Linked DNA regions of Homo sapiens: regions 2, 3 and 4 are each linked to region 1. Evidence: fine-mapped expression QTL. A gene starts in region 1. Each other region holds a variant in brackets. All regions are shown on one strand. Distances are from middle to middle. Region 1 holds the start of PSME4 (proteasome activator subunit 4). Region 2 has its middle 68 kb from the start of PSME4. Region 3 overlaps GPR75-ASB3 (GPR75-ASB3 readthrough). Region 4 has its middle 59 kb from the start of ACYP2.

Region 1 (5,204 bases):
CCAGGCCGGGTGCGGTGGCTCACACATGTAATCCCAGCACCTTGGGAGGCCGAGGTGGGCAGATTGCTTGAGGTCAGGAGTTCAAGACCAGCCTGACCAACATGGTGAAACCCTGTCTCTACTAAAAATACAAAAAAAGTAGCCAGGCATGGTGGCACTCGCCTATAATCCTACCTACTTGGGAGGCTGAGGCAGGAGAATCGCTTGAACCCGAAAGGCAGGGATTGCAGTGGGCCAAGATCCTGCCACTGCACTCCAGCCTGGGCAACAAAGCAAGACTCCACCTCAAAAAAAAAAAAAAAAAGAATTATTTAGTCCAATCCCCTCATTTCACGCACAAGCATACTGAAACACATGATTAAGTAACTTTCCCACAGTCTCAGAGCTAGTGGGAGAAACTAGATTTTCTTTTCATTACCACTTTCTATTCTACAAAGTACTAAATATGATCACCACTCAGCTTTCGTCACACGTTTTGGCATTATTCAGATGTTCACTTATGCAACACAGAAGGCTTAAAAAACAACAAGCACAACTATGAACAGGTCACCTTAACATGACTTAGGAAAAAAACACACCCAAGATCACAACATGTCCCACCGCATTCAAAATGTCTCATAGTGCAATATCAAGAATCAGTTTCCAGCATCTAACCACTATTCCAAAATAAAATTCTACCCAGTAGCATTTCTTGCTGGTTATTTAGCTATAAATGGTTATGGGTTCATGGGTATTAAGCCATCAGCTATCTGCAATCCAGCCCTAAACACCAAACATTAGCTCCATTGTTATTTTTAGCCCTTTCTAGGTACAAACTTTTATCTAATAAGCCAAAACAATAACAAAACTCGGAGTGCTAATTTACCAAACTTGTTAACAATAAATACTTTAGAAAACAATGCTTAACTATGCCTTGGTAGATTCTAGGTTTATAAATCCAAAGCAGATATGCCTTCACACCATGGCATATTTATATAATGTACACTAAAAAAAGCTGTTTGCGTCCCCAAAAATGGTAGGTATTCTCTGGCAAGTCTAATCCAAGTGATTAAAATGGGGAATTACTGTAACAAAGTGACTATTTTTACTGTGCCTGAGCAACACAAAAACCTAGGAGTCTCACTTGAAAAAGCATTTGGATTTTAACTATTTATAAAATATTCTTTTTTGACTAAACGTGGTTCTCCCTGTTGCATTCCTGCTTCTGCCGCCCCTCACCTCCATTCTCCTAAGGATCCTAACACGAAAAACTTCATTATACTCTAGTCAAGGGGAGAGCTGTTAACCTTGACATTTTATGATCACTCTCTGAAGAGGGCAAATTACATGTTTTAGTTTTGCTTCTTTTTAATTAAAAAGGTCCCACCCACCCCTCAAGTGGAAATGAGAAATTTGTCAGAGGCCCCTTAATAATTGGCAGATGAGAATCATCCAGTGAATATACACAAAACTATTACAAAACCCTGAGTCATCACTCAGTTCAATCAGCAGCTTTGGGTAAACACTGAATGAGTGAGTTATGTCTTGTGTGTTCACCCGTCCATACCCACATGCGTGAACATACCATGTTACTAGATTTTATGTACAGTTAACCAAACAAGATACAGCAAAATTCTTTCTTAAAAAGCTCTTCGGACACAGTAAAGATGCCCATCCAGCAAGTAAATGTAACCTTTTTTCCCCCACTGTATTTTCACTCGTTTTTTTTTTTTTTTTCCTAATTTCAGTGACACTATAGTTTGAAGCTAGTTTACAAACAGAACTCCTGAAACTGATTTAGGTAATCTCTTAATCTGAGTAACTCAAAAAATTAACACAAGCCTGATACTAATATCGCCCTGGACATCCTGACAGTGCTCTTCCCTACTTTCCTCAGTATCTTAAATGTCTCTCCAAAAGAAATGTCACAACAGGAGCAACACACAATCCAAAACAACACTGTCCACATAAGACGTTAAGCTCAAGAATGAGGTCTGACTTTAAACGACCCTTTTCGATCAACTCCGCCAGGTCTGAGAGGGCCCCCAAAAAGCAAAACCCTTAAGTTTCCCTATGGTCTTCTCTCCATTCAGAAAGTTACTAGACGCCAACGGAGATGCGAAGAGGCGGGGATCGTAGGGGAAGGAAGAACCGGAGGAAGCAAGGAGACAAGTCAAGGAACTCCCCCAAAGACAAATTCTCTTTGCCCCGCCTCTCCCATGCGCAAAAGTCCACGGAGGACCCTTGAGAAAGGCTCACCTCTCTCCCTCGGGGCCGGGGCCCTTGGGCTACCCAGGGCCCCCCAGGTGGGAAGACAACAACCCGAACACTTCGGGAGAAGCAGATGCGGAGGACGTAGAGGGATGGTAAAGACCCGGGAAGTCCCGTAGGAAAGTGGCAGGGAGGACGGCTTGAGTACTTCACAGGCTCTGTCACGACCCTGGGATCACCGCTCGGGGACAGCTCCAGCGAGGACAGAGCTAAGGGTCCAGCCCTCTGGACAAAGAGCAACCATCCCCGACACCTCTCACTGAGCCTTTCCCCCCGGCCCGGCCCGCAGGCCCGGGCACACTTACGTGGAGAGTTTCCTGGTCCAGAAGAGGCCCCCGGGCCACAGCTCTTGGAGCTGCACGGCCCGGCCCAGGTTGCATTTGATCTGGGCCAGCTGCAAGTCGGACTCGGCGTCTAGCCGCTCCGCGTAGGGCAGCAGCTTGTTGTAGACGATCTCCTTCTGCGGGACGAAGCCCCGCGGGCCCGGCTCGGGACGCCCGCCCGGCTCCGGGGGCTCTCCGACTCCCGCCCGCTCGGCCGGCTCCATGAGCCCAGGGACACCCCCCCCACCCCCTCCCACCCGAACCCTCCCCGGCCCCCACCCCTCTCCGGGCTCCGCCTCCTCCGCGTCTTCGTCGCCCTGCGGCCGCTGGCGGCCCGTCGCCCTCGGACCGATCGCTAGGCCCCCTTCCCTGGCCGGCGTGCTGCTGGGCCCCACGCGGCTCTCAGTTCGTTGGCGGCGGCAGCGGCCGCTCTGCCCGCCCCGCACCGGCTCTGCTGGTGACGCTGCAGCCGCCGGGCCCAGAGGTTCCGGACCGGCCTCAAGTCACTTCCGGGGCGGGGCGGGGCGGAGCGACGGCGTCGGGGGAGGCGGTGGTGGCGGCAGCTGGAGCCCAACGGGCTGCGCCTTCTTCGCCGTGGGCCCGGCTCGGAGCCCCCACCCCAGGCCTCACCGGCCCAGCGCGAGGCTGCCTCACCGGAAACACGAGGCCGAATTCCAAGCTATTGTCCTGCTTCGCCGGGGGTCGCGCACTCCAAGCGGCAGCCCACTGGAGTCCCAGTCGCCACGACAGGCGGCAGCCAGGTCGGCCTGGTCCCCCTAGCCGAGCAGCCCCGGCTTCTGGGTTAGAGGGGTTTATGGAAAAGCCTACGTACCCACTTGCTCCTTATAGATTTATTTACTCCATCCCGCTTGTTCCTTATAGATTTAATTTTTCTGTCCCCTTTAAGTCCCCATCTTTCTGGTATTCTGGCCGCCATCATTCCAAAGAAGAAAATAGTTACTCGCTGAACAAATGCTATTTGAACAGCTGTTTTGTGTGTAAGGCGCTCAGTTTAGGCTATTGAGATAGAAAGTTTAACCTGGTTTCCGCCCTCCCAAGGACTTAGTCTAGCAGAGATAAAGACGTGAATTACAAGATAATGCTCTTAATTGCTAGATAAGTACAAGAATCCTTAGGAACTCTACAAAGAAGTTGAAACTAGGGGGTTTGAGAGGGTGTCATTTTCCTAGAAGTGATACTTAATTTAAGCTATGAAGGTTGAGTGCAAAGTTGGTTAGAAAAAGGAGGGAGGAGGACACGTATTTCAGCTGAGAGAACAGCTTTGACGCTGCAAGCATGTATTCTAAAAATTCAAAGTTCAAAATAGCGTAAGAGAGGGGACGGAGAAATGAGACTGAGAAGGCAATCCTAAGGAATTCAGAGCTTTATCCTAGAGACAAACTTCCAAAAGATTTTAAGCATAGCAGTGGGATGATATAATTTACATTTTTTAAGAATTACTCTGGCGGCCGGGCGCAGTGGCTCACGCCTGTAATCCCAGCACTTTGGGAGGCCGAGGCGGGCGGATCACGAGGTCAGGAGTTCGAGACCAGTCTGGCCAACATGGTGAAACCCCGTCTCTACTAAAAATACAAAAAAGTTAGCCGGGCGTGGTGGCGGACGCCTGTAATCCCAGCTACTCGGGAGGCTGAGGCAGGAGAATCGCTTGAAACCGGAAGGCGGAGGTTGCAGTGAGCCAAGATCGCGCCAGGGCACTCCAGCCTGGGCAACAAGAGCGAAACTCCGTCTCAAAAAATAAAAGGGCCAGGCGCGTGGTGGCTCACGCCTGTAATCCCAGCACTTTGGGAGGCCGAGGCGGGTGGATCACGGGGTCAGGAGATGGAGACCATCCTGGCTAACATGGTGAAACCCCGTCTCTACTAAAAATACAAAAAAATTAGCCGGGCATGGTGGCGGGCGCCTGTAGTCCCAGCTACTCGGGAGGCTGAGGCAGGAGAATGGCGTGAATCCGGGAGATGGAGCTTGCAGTGAGCCGAGATCGTGCCACAGCACTCCAGCCTGGGTGGCAGAGCGAGACTCCGTCTCAAAAAAAAAAAAGAGTCACTCTGGCTTCGTCTGGAAAATGGGTTGGAACTGACAAGATTGGGAACTGGAGGACCCTTTAAGGTGTGACATAATCATGGCCTGGATGTCAGTTGAAATTGAGAGCTACTTCAGCAGAATGGCTTGGGCTTAGTAGTTGACTGAAAGTGAAAAATTAAAAAGGAAAGAGACAAGACGACGCTGGGTAGATAGGTGAAGTCCTTCACTGAGATAAAGAACACAGCAGAAACAGCTTGGGAGGCAGAATGCCTATGGGATGGGTATGTTGACATATGTATCAGGAGGGTGATCTAAACTGAGATGCAGATTAGCGTGTAGATGGACGACAGGAGGGAAGGAAATATACAGTATGAAAAAATAGGGCCCTTCACAAATCTCTGAGGAGCCCCACATTTAAGGACAGACAGAGAAAAGGAAGGTAGGCCACAAAGAATATTCACAAAAAGCAGAGAGAGGAGGAGTTCTAGGAAACTGGGTGTCTCATGGAGAAGCGAACAATCCTACCTTAGGTAGCTAACAGGTCAAATGAAGTGAAACCTGAAAGGGTTTATTGGATAGTTTATTGAT
Region 2 (5,204 bases), 69 kb after region 1:
TTCTCATTGTAAATGAATAAAGTGGCATTTGAATGTCTAGGATCTCTCAGGGCCTACACCCAGGACATTGGCGGGACTGTTTCTGGACCATATCCTGAAAACTGGACACCCAACTGTGGTGCTCTGTTACCTCCTGCGTGGCCCCTGCGGTCTTCCCTGGATGATGCCTTGACTGCTTCATGGTCAGGTCCCTCTCCTCTGATTTCTAGATCACTCATTTAAGAGGACTTAGAGTTGTGTGAAGTAATGTTGTCCCTAATTAATATGTATATAATTTTACATTGAGTTTCTGGCCAAAGGACCTAACTCCTATTTTTTAATGTAGAGAAAAACTCCTTTAGAAAATATTTCAATGGACGTTAGAATTTTGTTTTGTTTTTTAAGACAGAATCTCGCTCTGTCACCCAGGTTGGAGTGCAGTGGTGCAATCTTGGCTCACTAGAACCTCTGCCTCCCAGGCTCAAGTGATCCTCTGGCCTCGGCCTCCCAAATACCTGGGATTACAGGCGCCCACCACCATGCCTGTCTAATTTTTTTGTATTTTTGGTAGAGACGGAGTTTCACCATGTTCCCTGGGCTGGTCTCAAACTCCTGTTCTCAAGTGATCCACCTGTCTCAGCTTCCCAAATTGCTGGGATTACAGGCATAAGCCACCATACCAAGCTTGTTTTGTTTTTTTGAGACAGAGTCTTGCTCTGTCACCCAGGCTGAGGTGCAGTGGCACAATCACGGCCCACTGCAGCCTCAACCTCCTAGGCTCGAGCAATCCAACCACCTCTGCCTCCTGAGTAGTTAGGACCACAGTGAACCCCTATGCCTAGTTAACTTTTAAATTTTTTGTAGAGATGAGATCTCACAATGTTACCCAGGCTAATCTTGAACTCTTGGCCTCAAGTGATCCTCCCCCCTCACCCTCCCAAAGTGCTGGGATTACAGGGGTGAGCCATAATGCCCGGCCTAAAACATGCTTTTAATTAACTTTAAAAAAGTGAATAAAATATATAGTAAAATCGAAATCAGAGTGCTTTTGAAACAAATGAAATGTAAGACTTTTAATAAGCTAGGTGGTTATCAATGGTCATATCAGAAGATTGAAAATATCAACATTATAAATATCAATAAACTATGAGAAACTTGGAAATTCTTTCAGGAATGTGAAGGTGACTTAGAGCTAGCAGGTGCTTTTCACTGTGTGCATCATGCAGATTGGAATAAATATTTCCCCAGGGTGTAAAAATCTCCGAAGCTTTCTCTCCTACACAGTGAAATTACTACAATTTAATATTCAGTGTTACCAACACCTTCCCTTATATAATAAGGAAATTAAAGCATGAAGTAGGAAAAACAAGCTGGATATATTGAGACAACTCTGGATCAACACTTCCTGGAAGGTGGGAGGACAGATTTATTCTAACCTCTGAGCGTCCTGATTCAAACATTTGTTCGGTTGTCCTTGGCCTAGGATGCCCTTATTTTTGGCCTGGTAGACACCTCCTCATTCTCCAAGATTCACATTAAGTTCAGCTTCTCTGTGAAGGCTTCTTTCACCCTAAGGGTAAGTTGACCCTTTTCCCGTCTTCTTTGCTAACACTGCATACTCTTTGTTTTTTTTGCAAATATATCTTACTTTCCACTATATGTGAGCTTCTTGAGGGCAGGGATTTAAATATATATATGTATGTATTTTATTTACTTAACATAGTACTTACTAAGTGCGTGGTGCTATTCTAAGCACTACATAAGTTATTGATCATTTAATCCTTGTAATAGTCCCATGAGGCTTATTATTATCTCCATTTTGTAGATGAGGAACCTGAAGTGCAGAGTGTTCAGTAACTTTATTCCTCTCTGTTTCACCAGAACCTAAAGGTGATTCTTTGCATACAGTAGGCATTCATTCATTCAATAAATCTTTATTGAATACTATATATATATATATATATATATATATATATATATATATACTCTTCTAAGTGCTAAGATACAGCAATGAAAAAAGATGAAAAAACCCCCACCTTTTTGGAGCTCACATTTTGGTTGTCAGAATAGGTAAAAAAAAAAAAAAAAAGATAAATAAAATAAACATTTGTTCCATAGGTGGCAATAAATTCTGCAGGAAAAAAAAGTAAAGCCAGTAAGTGGGAAAAGGAGCTCTTGAAATTGCAATTTTAGATGGGTTAACAGGGAAGGGCTCACTGAGAAGGAGATATTTGAGGGAAGGAGTTGAGTGAGTGAATGAGTGAGTCATATCTGGGGGAAGAACATCCCAGGAACAGCTAGTACAAAGGTCCTGAGGTGTCTGGAATGTTCAAGGAACAGCAAAGGGTGGGGAGCGTGCTCCTATAATAGAACAGGGAAG[T/C]GGGAAAGAAGTAGAGGGTGAGGTTGGGAGAGAATGGGCAGTGAGCAGAGCATGTAGGGCTTTAAAATAATTTTTCAAGTTGAACTTTTACTAAAAATATCTTTGGAAGTTTTTTTTTTTTTTTTTTCCCCAGCCTACATCGTGCTTTAATTTTTTTTTTCTTTTCTTCTCTTTTTTTCTTTTTCCTTTTTTTTGGCGGGGGGGGACAGGGTCCCACTCTGTGGCCCAGGCTGGAGGGCAGTGGTGTGATCTTGGCTCAAGCAACCTCTGCCTCCCAGGCTCAAGCGATCCTCCCGCCTCAGCCTCCCTAGTAGCTGGGACTACAGGTGTGCACTATCATGCCTGGCTAATTTTTGTATTTTTTCTAGAGATGGGGTTTCATGATGCTGCCCAAGCTGATCTCGAACTCCTGAGCTCAAGCAATCCACTCACCTTGGCCTCCCTAGTAGCTGGGACTACACGTGTGCACTATCATACCTGGCTAATTTTTGTATTTTTGGTAGAGATGGGGTTTCATCATGTTGCCCAAGCTGGTCTCGAACTCCTCGATCCACCCACCTCAGCCTCCCAAAGCTCTGGGATTACAGGCATGAGCCAGCACATGCAGCCCTTTGGAGGGCTTGGAGGGTTTTTGAGCAGAAGAGTGATCTTCTTGAATTTATGTTTTTATCGGTGTCACTCAGGCTTCTGTGTTTTATATTTGTTTTCTTTTGTGTGTGTGTGTGTGTGTGTGTGTGTGTGTGTGTGTGTGTGTGTGTGTGTTTTGAGACAGGGTCTTGCTCTGTTGCCCAGGCTGGAGTGTGGTGGTACAATCATAGCTCACTGCAGCCCCAAACTCCTGGGCTTAAGAGATCTTTGTGCCTTGGCCTCCCAAAGTTCTGGGATTACAGTCATGAGCCACTGTGCCTGGCCCAGGCTTCTGTGTTGAGAAGAATCTCAACATGTCAAAGATGGAAGCTGGGAGACTAGTTTGGAGGTTCCCACAGTAATTTAGGTAAAAGACAGCAGTGGTAGTAGTGGAAGTGGTGAGAATTGGTCAGATTCTGGACATATGCTGAAGGTTAATCAGACAGATCTGCTGATAGGTCAGATGTGAGGTGTGAGAGGAAAAGAAGCATCCAGTATGACTTCAAGGCTTTGAACTCTGCAACTCGGGAAAAGAAGAAAAGGAACAGGATTTGGTGGTAGGGCAGTGACAAGCAGCAATCAGGAGTTCAGTTTAGGACTTGTTAAACTTGAGATGTCTTTTATTCAAGTGATAATATTAAGGAGGCAGCTGGATATGTGAATCTGGGGTATAGGGGAGACATGCAGACCGGACACTGTTAGCACATCCTAGATGATAGTTCAAGTCATGAGACTAGAGGAGATTGCCAAATGAGTCAGTGAAGATGGAAAGCAGAAGAGGTACAAGGGCTGAATCTTGGGATGCTCCAAGTTTTGGAGGTCAGAGAGATGAACAGGACCTAACATAGAAGACTGATAATGAGCAGCCAGAGAAATAGGGGAAAGATTAGGTAAGTGCCCTTCTAAAAACTATATGGAAAGTGGTTCAGGAGGAAAGAGTAATCACATTCTACTAACTGATCAAGTAAGATGAAAATTAAGGCTTGGCTGTTGGATATAGCAACAGGAAAGTGGAGGAGATCTTGATGAGAGTGATTTAACTGAAGTGGATTGGATAAATAACTGACTATATTAGGTTTTAGAGAGGTACTGGACATGGGGAATATAGACAACCCCTAGGAAAGAAAGAAATGGAGGTAGTAGCTGAAAGAGGAAGTGAGGTCAACAGAGGGTTTTTCAAAAATGGGAGAAATAGTGTTCATAGATAGGTGGAAAAGATCCAGGGGAAAGGGATGAGCTGATGCAGGTGATTGAGAGGAGAATTGCTGGAGTGATGTCCTTGAGTAGGTGGTGTCTGGTTCACAAGGAAAGCGGTGGCCTTTTCTTTTCTTTTTTTCTTTTCTTTTCCTCTCTCTCTCTTTCTTTCTTTCTTTCTTTTTTTTTGTATTTTTTGTAGAGACAGGGTTTCACCATGTTGCCCAGGCTGGTGTTGAACTCCTGGCATCATGCAATCTGCCTGCCTCAGCCTCCTAAAGTGCTGGGATTACAGGCATGAGCCATCACGCCCGGCCAGCGGTGGCCTTTTCTAGGGGCACAGAGTGTTCCTCTACAGTCACAGGAAGGAAGCCCAGAATATGGGCATGATGCAGCGGTGGGTGTTTGTGGGAGCTCTCTTCTGATTCATTCTATTTTCTCAGTGAAATAGGAAGCAAGGGCATCAGAATGATGAGGGGAGGTGAGTAAGTATTTGAGGTTTGAGGACAGAGAAGGTGTGAAATAGTCACCCAGGAGAGTGGGAGAATAAAAGGGCCAGGGAAATTCAGTGTGGTTGTTAGCAGCATTAAGGGCTTACTCAAAACTTATGATCATGAATTTAAAGTGAGATCTCTTAGTATGGTTTGGTTCTTCACTAGTTGCATTTGGCTGCACAGGTGTACGACTGGACTATGGGGAATGTTTTCTTCAACAAAGGTTATTGTTTATTCAAGTGAGTATCTCAGTGTCAGAGGCGGCAAGGGAGCTGAGGGTACATGCAACATAATATAAGTGAGTTTAAGCTGGGTGAGGTATCAAATGAACGCATACATGAAAGAATAAATTGTTTCCCCACTTAGAATGCATTTTTTTCTTTTTAGAGTGGGGTCTTGCTCTGTTGCCCACGTTGGAGTACACTGGCACGATCACAGCTCACTGCAGCCTCAACCTCCTGGGCTCAAGCAATCCTCCCGCCTCAGCCTCCCAAGTTGCTGGGACCACAGGCATGAGACACCTCACACAG
Region 3 (5,000 bases), 160 kb before region 1:
CAAACACTTTGGGGGGCCAAGGCAGGAGGATCACTTGAGGCCAGGAGTTCAAGAGCAGCCTGGGCAACATAGCAAAACCCCATCTCTACAAAAAATTTTAAAAATTTTAAAAAAAGAAAATACCATATCATCTAAGTTTAAAATAAGTTTTAAGATTATACTTTTTGAGTTCTTTTATTTATAATTTTATAACTCACCGTATTCTCCCATACTTGAGCCAGCCTGCTTAAATTCTGAGGTTCAAGTTCCAATTCTGTTATTTGTCCTACTTATACTTTGTTTAGTAAAGTAAGCTGCTAGGTATTGAAGACAAGCTTTAATTAATGAATATGGACCTAGCTGCTTTAAAAGGCCATTTTCGTTATCTAAAAAAGAAAATAATACCCAAAATAGAAAAGTGTATATTTGCCCACTCATAATGTTTTGAACTGATCTCAGATTCCAAGATAGATCATACTGGGACAGACTGTCAATTCACCTTCCACATTTAAATCTTCCAAAATGAATGAGGCATCCATAGACTAGGATGTGTTCGGTTTTTTTGTTTTGTTTTGTTTTGTTTTTCACTTAAACCTGAGAGGTTTCATTTAAGTATTCTTTCCATTTATTCCTGCTACTTTGCAGATGTTTGTTTTTTTAATAACAATACAGAAAAAGGATAAAGTACCATTGAACTACAACCCTTATAATACCTGATGAGTTTCTTAATTAAAGAAATGTATGCCAGAAATTTTAAATGAGAAGTATCTGTCTCCTCTGCCATCATACCACTTCTCAAAAAAGTTTAACTACTGTTAACATTTTCATAGCCTGCCACAAGAAAAAAAATGCATATATATAGATCTTGGTATAACTTTTTTATTTATAGGGAAGGTATCATGCACTGCTCTGCCACTTGTTCTTTTCACTTAGTATCTTGGAGATTGCTCCACGTCAGCAACAATCGATTTCATTCTTTTCAGCAGATACAGAGGATTATGTCTGTACCACAGTGTATTTAACCAGACCAGACCTCTGCTAATGGACCTTTAAGTTGTTTCCAGTTTTTGCTGTGATATGTTTTAGTGAACATTTTTAAATAGTTCTGTTGGTATACTTTTGTAAGTATATTCATAAGGGACATTTCTATTAACATACTTCCTTGGTCAAAGTATCTGCATACTGGAAAATTGCCTTCCAGAGTTAGACCAGTTTACACTCCCATAAACAGTGGCTACATTCCTATACACTTGCCAACACTAGGTTTTACCAAACGTATTTTAGCCAAGGTTGCATAACCTGGAACTTTCTAGGGAACTCTGTTAGGTGTTTAGAGAGATACTAAAAATAATAGTAATTAGCAAAAAGGGTGCTTACTGTATGCTAGGCACTATGTACTTTACACGTATTAATTCTTTTAATATTCATAACAACCTTAAGAAGTGGTTATTGTTATTCCAAGATGAGGAAATAGAAACAAAGGTTCAATAACTTGCCTAAAGTCAAATAGGTAGTAACTGGGGAAACTGGAATTCCAACCGAGGCAGTCTGGCTCCATATCCAACCTCTTAAAACACTTCACTTTGCTGCTCTAATTTCTGCCTATCCAGGAACTTAATCTAGTTGCTAAAAACAAATGTTGTTAGCTATCTCTTACATTAGGCACTAAGCTCCACTGGGCATTGGCCCTGCTTGTTTCCTTTGCCACCATAGGGGTTTTTTTTGTTTTGTTTTGTTTGAGACAGAGTTTTCCTCTTATTGCTCAGGCTGGAGTGCAATGGCGCAATCTTGGCTCACTGCAACCTCTGCCTCCCAGGTTCAAGTGATTCTCCTGCCTCAGCCTCCCAAGTAGCTGGGGTTACAGGCATGCGCCAGCACGCCCGGCTAATTTTGTATTTTTAGTAGAGTAGTTTCTACATGTTGGTCAGGCCGGTCTCGAACTCCCGACCTCAGGTGATTTCGCCCACCTCAGCCTCCCAAAATGGTGGGATTACAAGTGTGAGCCTCCGCGCCCCAGCCAGGGGTTTTTAATTCTACTAACCAGATATCTATTAGTGCCCAGCATGGTTGTCTGGCATACACTATGAAGAAAGAAACCAAAGGAATGCAAGGAGGTAGGAAGGATAAGGAAGAAGAAAGAAGGAAGGATTTCCACATATAAGACAGTATATAGTTAGTGTTTAAAAAATAATAAAAGCAGAATGGGAAAAGGGGTTTCTGGACAGACAGTT[C/G]CAATAGAGAAATAAGTATGGTACCAAATGAATAGTGTAAAGATCAGTATAACATTGCGTAGGATGAAGTCAGGCTGCAGTGGAAGAGATAGAGGCCAAAGATGCAATTAAGAATTGCAGTAGTATGTGATAGTATTATCTAGGTATGAGAGATTAAACTCTTGGTTGTGGGGTGAGTTGCTGGCAGTGAAAAAGTAGAGGAAGAGTCTAAAGCTGAAAAATATCCAGGAAAGAACTGATGGGACTTACCTGTAGAAGAGAAAAAGAGATAGAAGAGCCGAAAATAACTACATTTAGAGCTAGCCTTACTAAAAATTAGTTATGTTATTCAGAGAAACAAGGAATAAAGAAGATAATGTGCTTAAATTTCCACTCATTGAATTTGACTGACATCATTACACCTAAATATAGATATCCACTGTGCAGATAAAGACTAGCTTACAAGAAGGTCAGGTCATCAGCATAAATATCTACTTGATGATATCAAGCACGCATTATCACAAATTTTTTTCCCATATTAGGACAAGGATAGTGGGAAAACCTCTGTGGTTGTCGGGACATGGAACCAAGAAGAGCATATTGAATGGGCTAAGAAGAATACTGCTAGAGCTTATCATCTTCAAGACGATGGTACCCAGACAGTCAGGTAAAGATTCACTTTACTTGCCTTTGGAGCTAATTACTACAATTTCTAAAACTCAAAATATTGAAAAACATAAAAATTCAAACATTTAAGTAAAATCCCTGTTTAGTTTTTTTCAAGGGATATCTTTTAGGTTAGTTTTCTTTTCTTAGGGAAGCAACACAGTGTAATAGTTCAGAGCACAGTCCCTGGAGTCAGACTACCTGGATTCAAATGCTGGCTCATCACTTCCTACCTTGGAGAAATTACATCATCTTTTTTATCTCTCACTTTTGTTGTGTAATGGTATTTGCCTCATATGATTATTGTGTCATTTAAGAGGTAATTTATGTAAAGGAGAATGCCTGGCAATAGCATGCAATAAACCTGGGCTGCCACCCATAACAGTGGGGGTGATAACATTAATGAGAGTGGCAGTGGTGTTAGTAACTGGCTCAATTCTGTCAGAACTGAGGGTGTTTTTTAAAAACTACCTCACATCTCTTTTAGGATATATGAGTATACCTTGTCAAAACACCAGTAAGTTAATCTCATTTCCCAAGAATAACTACGCATTAGCTTTTCTTGCAGACTCTTAACTCAGTATGTTTTCAATTATTCCTTCTTGTTCCTTCTTGGGTATTACCTTTTCCTTCCTAAAACAGATGATTTGGATTGTTTTCAGAGTGTACTGACTTTTCGGGCTGATAAAAGTCAAAGTCAGCCAAATTAAAACATAGACTTTTTTTTTTTTAATACTTTAAGTTTTAGGGTACATGTGCACAATGTGCAGGTTAGTTACATATGTATACATGTGCCATGCTGGTGTGCTGCACCCATTAACTCATCATTTAGCATTAGGTATATCTCCTAAAGCTATCTTCCCCCCTCCCACAGACATTTAATTATTGTACTAAACAAATTGATTTTTCTTATCCTTGTAGGTATATGTTTTATGTGAAAACAGTTTGTGGTATCATGTACAATATATGTTGAAGAATGAGTGTTAGACTGGTAAAATGAAGCTTTTCTTTGGATCCTGCTCATTTGAGATTGACAGTTTGGCCTAGGCTTTGTCTTCTATACTACAGTGCCTAACGAACAGTATTTTAATGGGAGTAGCTTGATGGAGGACGGAAGCAAAGAACTGTTTTACAAAACAATATAGTGGGCTAGGGAAATTGATAACTTTAAAACAATTTTTTTAAAGGAATCTAACCAAAATTATTTGTATACAAATAAATAATATGCAAGTTGAAAATAATTATTAACTAAGCCAGTATGAAGTATCTCTTATATTCTCTTTATAGAATCCAAGAGAATGCCTCTGTGAGATAACCCTAAAAATATTTTTTTAAAGAATATTTTATAGTCAGGTTTTTTTTTAACTAATGCAAAACTGATCCCTCTAACCATCTTCTCACCCTACCCATTACAATTATTCTATTAGTGAGATTTTAGTTTAATAAAACTTGTGTGTTTCTCTGATTCAGGATGGTGTCACATTTTTATGGAAATGGAGATATTTGTGATATAACTGACAAACCAAGACAGGTGACTGTAAAACTAAAGTAAGTTAGACCATCAAATCATGCTGTATGCCTTTGTCTTTTAACTGCTTCCTATGGACAAAAGTTTTATGTAAACAGTATAATTATGAATAATTATGAAAGTATACCATTTAAATTATTGATAAAATTATATTAAATCATACAGGGTCCACTTGAGTGGGATTTTTAAGAGTACAGTTATTAACAGTGATCTTACTTTAAATGATTTGGACAGTACCTTAAAGTGCTCTCTGTTTTAGGTGCAAAGAATCAGATTCACCTCATGCTGTTACTGTATATATGCTAGAGCCTCACTCCTGTCAATATATTCTTGGGGTAAGTTAAAAAGAAAATAATCAAAAATTCCATTTTGAGCCATGTTTTAATTTTTTTTTCTTTTTTTTTTTTTTTTTTTTTGTTTTTTTGAGACGGAGTCTTGCTCTGTGGCTCAGGCAGAGTGCCGTGGCATAATCTTGGCTCACTGCAACCTCTGCCTCCCAGGTTCAAGCAATTCTTCTGCCTCAGCCTCCCGAGTAACTGGGATTACAGGCGCACACCACCACACCCAGCTAATTTTTGTATTTTTAGTAGAGACGGGGTTCCACCATGTTGGCCAGG
Region 4 (5,204 bases), 86 kb after region 1:
ACCCTAACTAATTAAAGTTTACTCTCACTGGGAGAGGGCAACAGGTGTTCTGGTCTTTCATTAAATCTCATTTCAAGAAAGGGAAGAAAGCAATTTCCTGTCAAGAAACTTGATGTTGATACTGGCACAGACTCTCTGGGTAGAGGATGGAATTGGTATAAAAACCCTAACCAGTAACTCAGGCCCTAGGCCCAGATCCTGGCTTATATTCAAGTACAGTTTCGAGATAGGGATTTTCCTGTACAATGAAAGAACAGCTTCTGAGTGCCTATCATAACCCAGAGCTGGTAAGGGTTTAAGACGTTTGCTAGACTTCTGCCTACAATGGAATAAGATAACTTATTCTGGGAACATTATTAGTTACAGTGAGATGTAAAATTCACCTTCTTTTCATTGAGGTGGCACTTAAAAATAGCATAAGAGACAGATAGTTTCTAGATTAGGTATAATGTGCTAATAATGTAAAAAAGGTTCTTCTTTTGCTTCTTTCTCTTTCTTGCCAACGATGCATTTCTAAGTTTCTCTTTTAAAGAAAATTTCCTGGGTCTGAAAAGGAAGTTCGAAGTCCTTGTGATATTCTGCTGACAGATTGATCTTGTTTTGATTTTCTTGAATGTTCTGTTCTCCTCTTCTGCAAACAATGGGTCATTTTTGTCTCTCGATTTTACTTAGCTGTGGTTTGAAGTCTTCTTAACATAACAGTACTGTGTGTTAACCATGCTATAATTAAAGAGTGAAGCTGAGGTTCTCCAGTGCTCCTTAAAGATTTCCTGGGTTAACTCTACCACAACTATACATCTCTGATAATGATATCTGCAGTCTTGTTCATAAAATAAGATGCATTACCAAGGTGAGATGATTGCCCACAATCATATATCTAAAGAAGGAACATATAACTCATCTGAATACAAGAGACTTCCTTCTAAAGGATTTGACATATCTCCCATTGTTTTCCCATGTTTGTCCTCATAGAAATCTAATGAGGTAGATATTACTTTAGAGATAAGAAAGCCAGGCTAAATAAATTAGGGAGATTTCTCCAAGAAGTTTCAGTAGTAGTGTGCAGACTAGAAGTTGTATTTTAATTCTCTGGCTTTACGTAAATATTTACTTACTAACTTTTCCTCATATAAAAAAGAGCTGGCTATGCAACAACTGGTTTTTCTTTTTCTTTTTTTCTTTTTTTAGACAGAGTCTCGCTCTGTCAACCGGGCTAGAGTGCAGTGGTGTGATCTTAGCTCACTGCACCCTCCACCTCCCGGGTTCAAGCAATTCTCCTGCCTCAGCCTCCCAAGTAGCTGGGACTACAGGTGTGCACCACCACACCTAGCTAATTTTTGTATTTTTAGTAGAGATGGGGTTTCACCATGTTGGCCAAGCTGGTCTAGAACTCCTGACCTCAGAGATCCACCTGCCTTGGCCACCCAAAGTGCTGGGATTACAGGCACCCAGCCTGGTTTTTCTTAAATGAGATAATTTCTTCCTTTTTTCCTAAATCATGTGTCAGGAATAATAAAATTATTATTTATAGTAATTCCATTACTCACAGTAATAATTGTGATAATAATGTAAACAATTTGTATTTATATAGCATTCTATTATTCACAAAGCATTTTGACATATATTGTCCAATTTCATTCCTACAAAAATCCTTGTGAGGTAGATAGAAAAAGTATTATTTTCCTATTTTACAAATAGAAAATAGAGGCTCAGAGAAGTTAATCGAATTTCTTAATAGCATATATTTAGGACGTGATGGTGGAGATTGAATTTCATCCTAAATCTAACTCTAAAACCTGTCCTATGACACCCTCCATATACTACATAATAGCCAAAGACATATTAAGCCTATCTGCTGTTCAACAAATTACATGCACCCAGAGGTCCAATTTGGCAGAGAGAACAATGCATCTAAGTGTTCAGTTATGAATTGAATTCTGAAGTTAGAGAAATATTTGACACATATTGAAATTGTGTATTCTGTAACATGTGTTGTGATAAACACAGAGTCTAATAATGTGTAGTACTGTCAGATATAGTACCTCCATAGACATACTGTAATATAGTAGTACTGTCAGATATAGTACCCCCATAGGCATACTGTAAATAGATTTCTTTCACTCCATGGAAACCTAAGCTCAGAGAAGTTAAATAAATTATTTGCACCAGGCTCCTATGATTTCAAAATGCTGCTTTTTCTGGATTAATGTAGTTAATTTCAAAAAAGATGTCCATATAGAAAAGGTTCTCCAGGGAGTAGAGAAAAAGAGCTGGTTGTCTTCCACCAGCTTGAGGAGGATTCATGAGTGGAACCAGGCACTGGTGGAACTAATCAGGGTGTCACCCAAGCAGGACACCCTAAGTTTATCTGCTTATCTACTGAACTGATAGGCAGCAAAGAAGATATCACCATTCACGGCCTGGTGACATGGGCAGTTTCTGACATATTTGCCCATCGTCCAGGATACAATTCAAATAAAATCATATGTTCTTTCCACAGGTTGTCAACATCCCTTGACTGATTTAGGTTTGATCATATCCATTGGCAAGGGCACATGCTCACTGAGTTTAACAGAAGCATAATACCCTGTACTGCTTTTATTTCCATTTCTTTTTTAAAGATATTTTTGCTCAGAATGTGCAGTTGAATTCTAGATGGTAAAATAAGTATCAAATGGAACCTCTTTGTATTCTTTAAATGAATGATATCTTTCTTTGCATTTATAATGATGTATATTTTCAATCATGACACATTCTGGATTTTCTAAGATAGTTCTGTTTTCAAATTATTTATTTTTCCCATGGAAGGGCTTATCTTGGTCCAGATTTTTTATTCAGAAAATAGTAACTATATTGCATGTTGT[G/A]TATGTCATCTGTATTTTATTTGCCATTTGTCACCTGTACTTTAATAGCTTTCTACTATATTACCTGTTGATTCCTATATTAAGAATATAATGAATTTTCTGTAAATCTAAAATCAGAAAAAAATACTTTTAAAAAGAACTTAAAGGAACTTAATTATTTGTGTAAGACAAATGCTTTTTATTTCATTTATTCATTATATATGTTTAATATATCTAACTGATATGACAAATAGTTTATCAATATCTTGCTCACACCAAAACATTAATTCCATTTGCAAAACTATGTGAAAATTATAGCTATTATCCCAATAATTCAGATAAAATAGCTTTCTAGTGTGTTTTCCCTTTCAATATTTGGGTTGATAGGGAAGGGATATGAATTTTGACTTGAACCATAAATTAGATTGTCTAGATTGACTGATTTCATGACATAACTATGCAACCTGCCCTTGGGGTTTCTTGGTGATGAACTTTTTCTTACTGTTCTCACATATTTTGTTTCCAGCTATAAATTCATACAATTATCAGAGTTTGGTTTTGGTCAAGTCATAATTGTGAGTGAAGAACCATGGAAGGAGAACATTTCTTGCTCATCAACTACTTTCATAAAATCAACAATTTGCTTAAGTAAGTCTTCAAAATAAATACTGATTTTAATGAATATCTACCTTTTACAGTTCATCAGAACATTTTGGTATATAAAATTAGCCTCAGGATGGCAGAACTTATCTGTTAGAGACATTTTGAGGGAAAAAGTGCCCATGTAAAAGAAACGAATATTGAGTCTATGTTTGATTGATTCAATTCAAAGATAGTTTTTTACAGTCATGTAAGCACTGACAGACTGTTCTGTCTACCAGAGAAGTACGTTTTATTAGAAGCATACTAAATTTGTTTACTCTAGATTAATAGGTTCTGAATTTATACACTTCTTTACTGTTTTATATATATATGTGTGTATATATATGTTGTTAGCAAAAATATATATAATACTGTTGTTTATAGGATACTGAATATTTGGCAGTTTGTAAGGTGAATGTGGGAATTACTCAAATGAGGAGTCAAAGCAGGGAAGGCCCTGGGTGATGTAATGAGGTCACCATTTGAGAGGGGATTGAGTGGCTAAGGCAGAGCAGAGGAAGAGAGGCTTTTGATTTGGTTATTAAATGCCAAACAGATGTGGTGTAGTAAATGTAAAGAATCAATGAACATTTGGAAAACAAATATTTTAAATTCATATTTCATGCTTTGGGATATTCACTTATCACACATAGAAAATAGGAGAAAATATTTTTCCCTTTGTGAATAATGCTTTGAAAATTCAAGTATTGGTCCCTGAGGGAGGTAGGGCATATGAAGCAATGATTGGTCTCTTCCTAAATTTAGTAAATATTGGGTCTTTGAAGATAATTCACATTAAATGGAGTGTTGGTGTTAACGCATGATACAAGCTAAAATGTGAATAAGCTCTGGACTTATTCTCATTGGTTCTTTTTGGGGGCAGGGTTATCAGTTTGTTTTATCAAAGTAGTACAAAGCTATATACAATATTAAATAGTACTACAAAGCTTATATTAAAAAAAAAAAAAGCAGTACCTTCTCCCTCCCCTCAGCTGTGCTTCCCAGGGGCTTTTAAATCTTCAGTAGTTTTTCCTGATATAAAATGCCTATCATTATACACCTATGTCTTCATTTACAAATTTTAGATATTATCTATTAACCCCTGACACACACATATTTCCCTCTCCTGTCATTCTAATATAATTCTAACTTCATTTCTAGTTAATTCAATATCGAGTATTTACATTATGATGTCAGTGTTGGTCATTGGTAACCCAAGTATTGTACTTTGACTACTTATCCTTCATTGTACCACCTGTAAGAGTTAAAGAAAGAGGAAAGAAACACAAAATGTGGCTTGGCAGTTAAGACAGGTTTACTTTAGATAAAACATGAGAGGGGCTTCTGGCTGATAATTTTTTTTTTTTTTTTTTTGGTCAGGAGCACTTTCTCTTACAGACTATATATTGGAGTATATATTGGTCTTAGGGTGAAGGGGCTTATTATAAGCTTGGAATGTTTCTGTGTGAGGGAGAAGTTTTATGGTGGGGTTGGAATGTCTCTGGGAGGAGGGATGTTTATCTTGGGGCAGACATCTTTCCACCCAGATGGGGGTTATCTCAAGGCTGGTATCTTCCCCACTGGAGGTGGGTTATCTCATGGCTAGCATGTCTCTGGTCACGGAGGGGTTTGGAAAGTTTCTGGTTGGAGATGTTATTTGTGGTTTATGGTCATGCTGGCCTAAGCCATTAGGCTGATGCCCTTTGGATTTAGGCAGTT

What was found. PIP is the estimated chance that this variant, and not a neighbour inherited with it, causes the effect.
Region 2: its variant is the best candidate, but not a certain one, in a credible set for the expression of PSME4 in lung (TOPMed, PIP 0.79).
Region 3: its variant is the best candidate, but not a certain one, in a credible set for the expression of PSME4 in whole blood (TOPMed, PIP 0.88).
Region 4: its variant is the best candidate, but not a certain one, in a credible set for the expression of PSME4 in whole blood (TOPMed, PIP 0.51).

The regions. Positions count from the first base shown.
Region 1 is chr2:53,967,988-53,973,191 of GRCh38, forward strand. PSME4 (proteasome activator subunit 4) reads right to left here and starts at 3,006. Exons shown (of 47, transcript NM_014614.3): 1 at 2,556-3,006. The coding sequence starts at 2,797. It also overlaps a transcript of ACYP2 not described here. RefSeq lists enhancers at 1,854-2,618, 2,885-3,179, 3,475-3,524 and silencers at 2,675-2,874, 2,849-3,010, 2,885-3,274.
Region 2 is chr2:54,036,750-54,041,953 of GRCh38, forward strand. It overlaps a transcript of ACYP2 not described here. Among named protein-coding and RNA genes, the nearest start is that of PSME4, 68 kb to the left of the region's middle. The variant T/C (reference allele first, on the strand shown) is at 2,360.
Region 3 is chr2:53,810,218-53,815,217 of GRCh38, forward strand. All of the region lies in intron 1 of GPR75-ASB3 (GPR75-ASB3 readthrough), which reads right to left. It overlaps ERLEC1 (endoplasmic reticulum lectin 1), which reads left to right. Exons shown (of 14, transcript NM_015701.5): 11 at 2,732-2,856; 12 at 4,326-4,403; 13 at 4,643-4,718. Among named protein-coding and RNA genes, the nearest start is that of ERLEC1, 26 kb to the left of the region's middle. The variant C/G (reference allele first, on the strand shown) is at 2,211.
Region 4 is chr2:54,053,870-54,059,073 of GRCh38, forward strand. It overlaps a transcript of ACYP2 not described here. Among named protein-coding and RNA genes, the nearest start is that of ACYP2, 59 kb to the right of the region's middle. The variant G/A (reference allele first, on the strand shown) is at 2,865.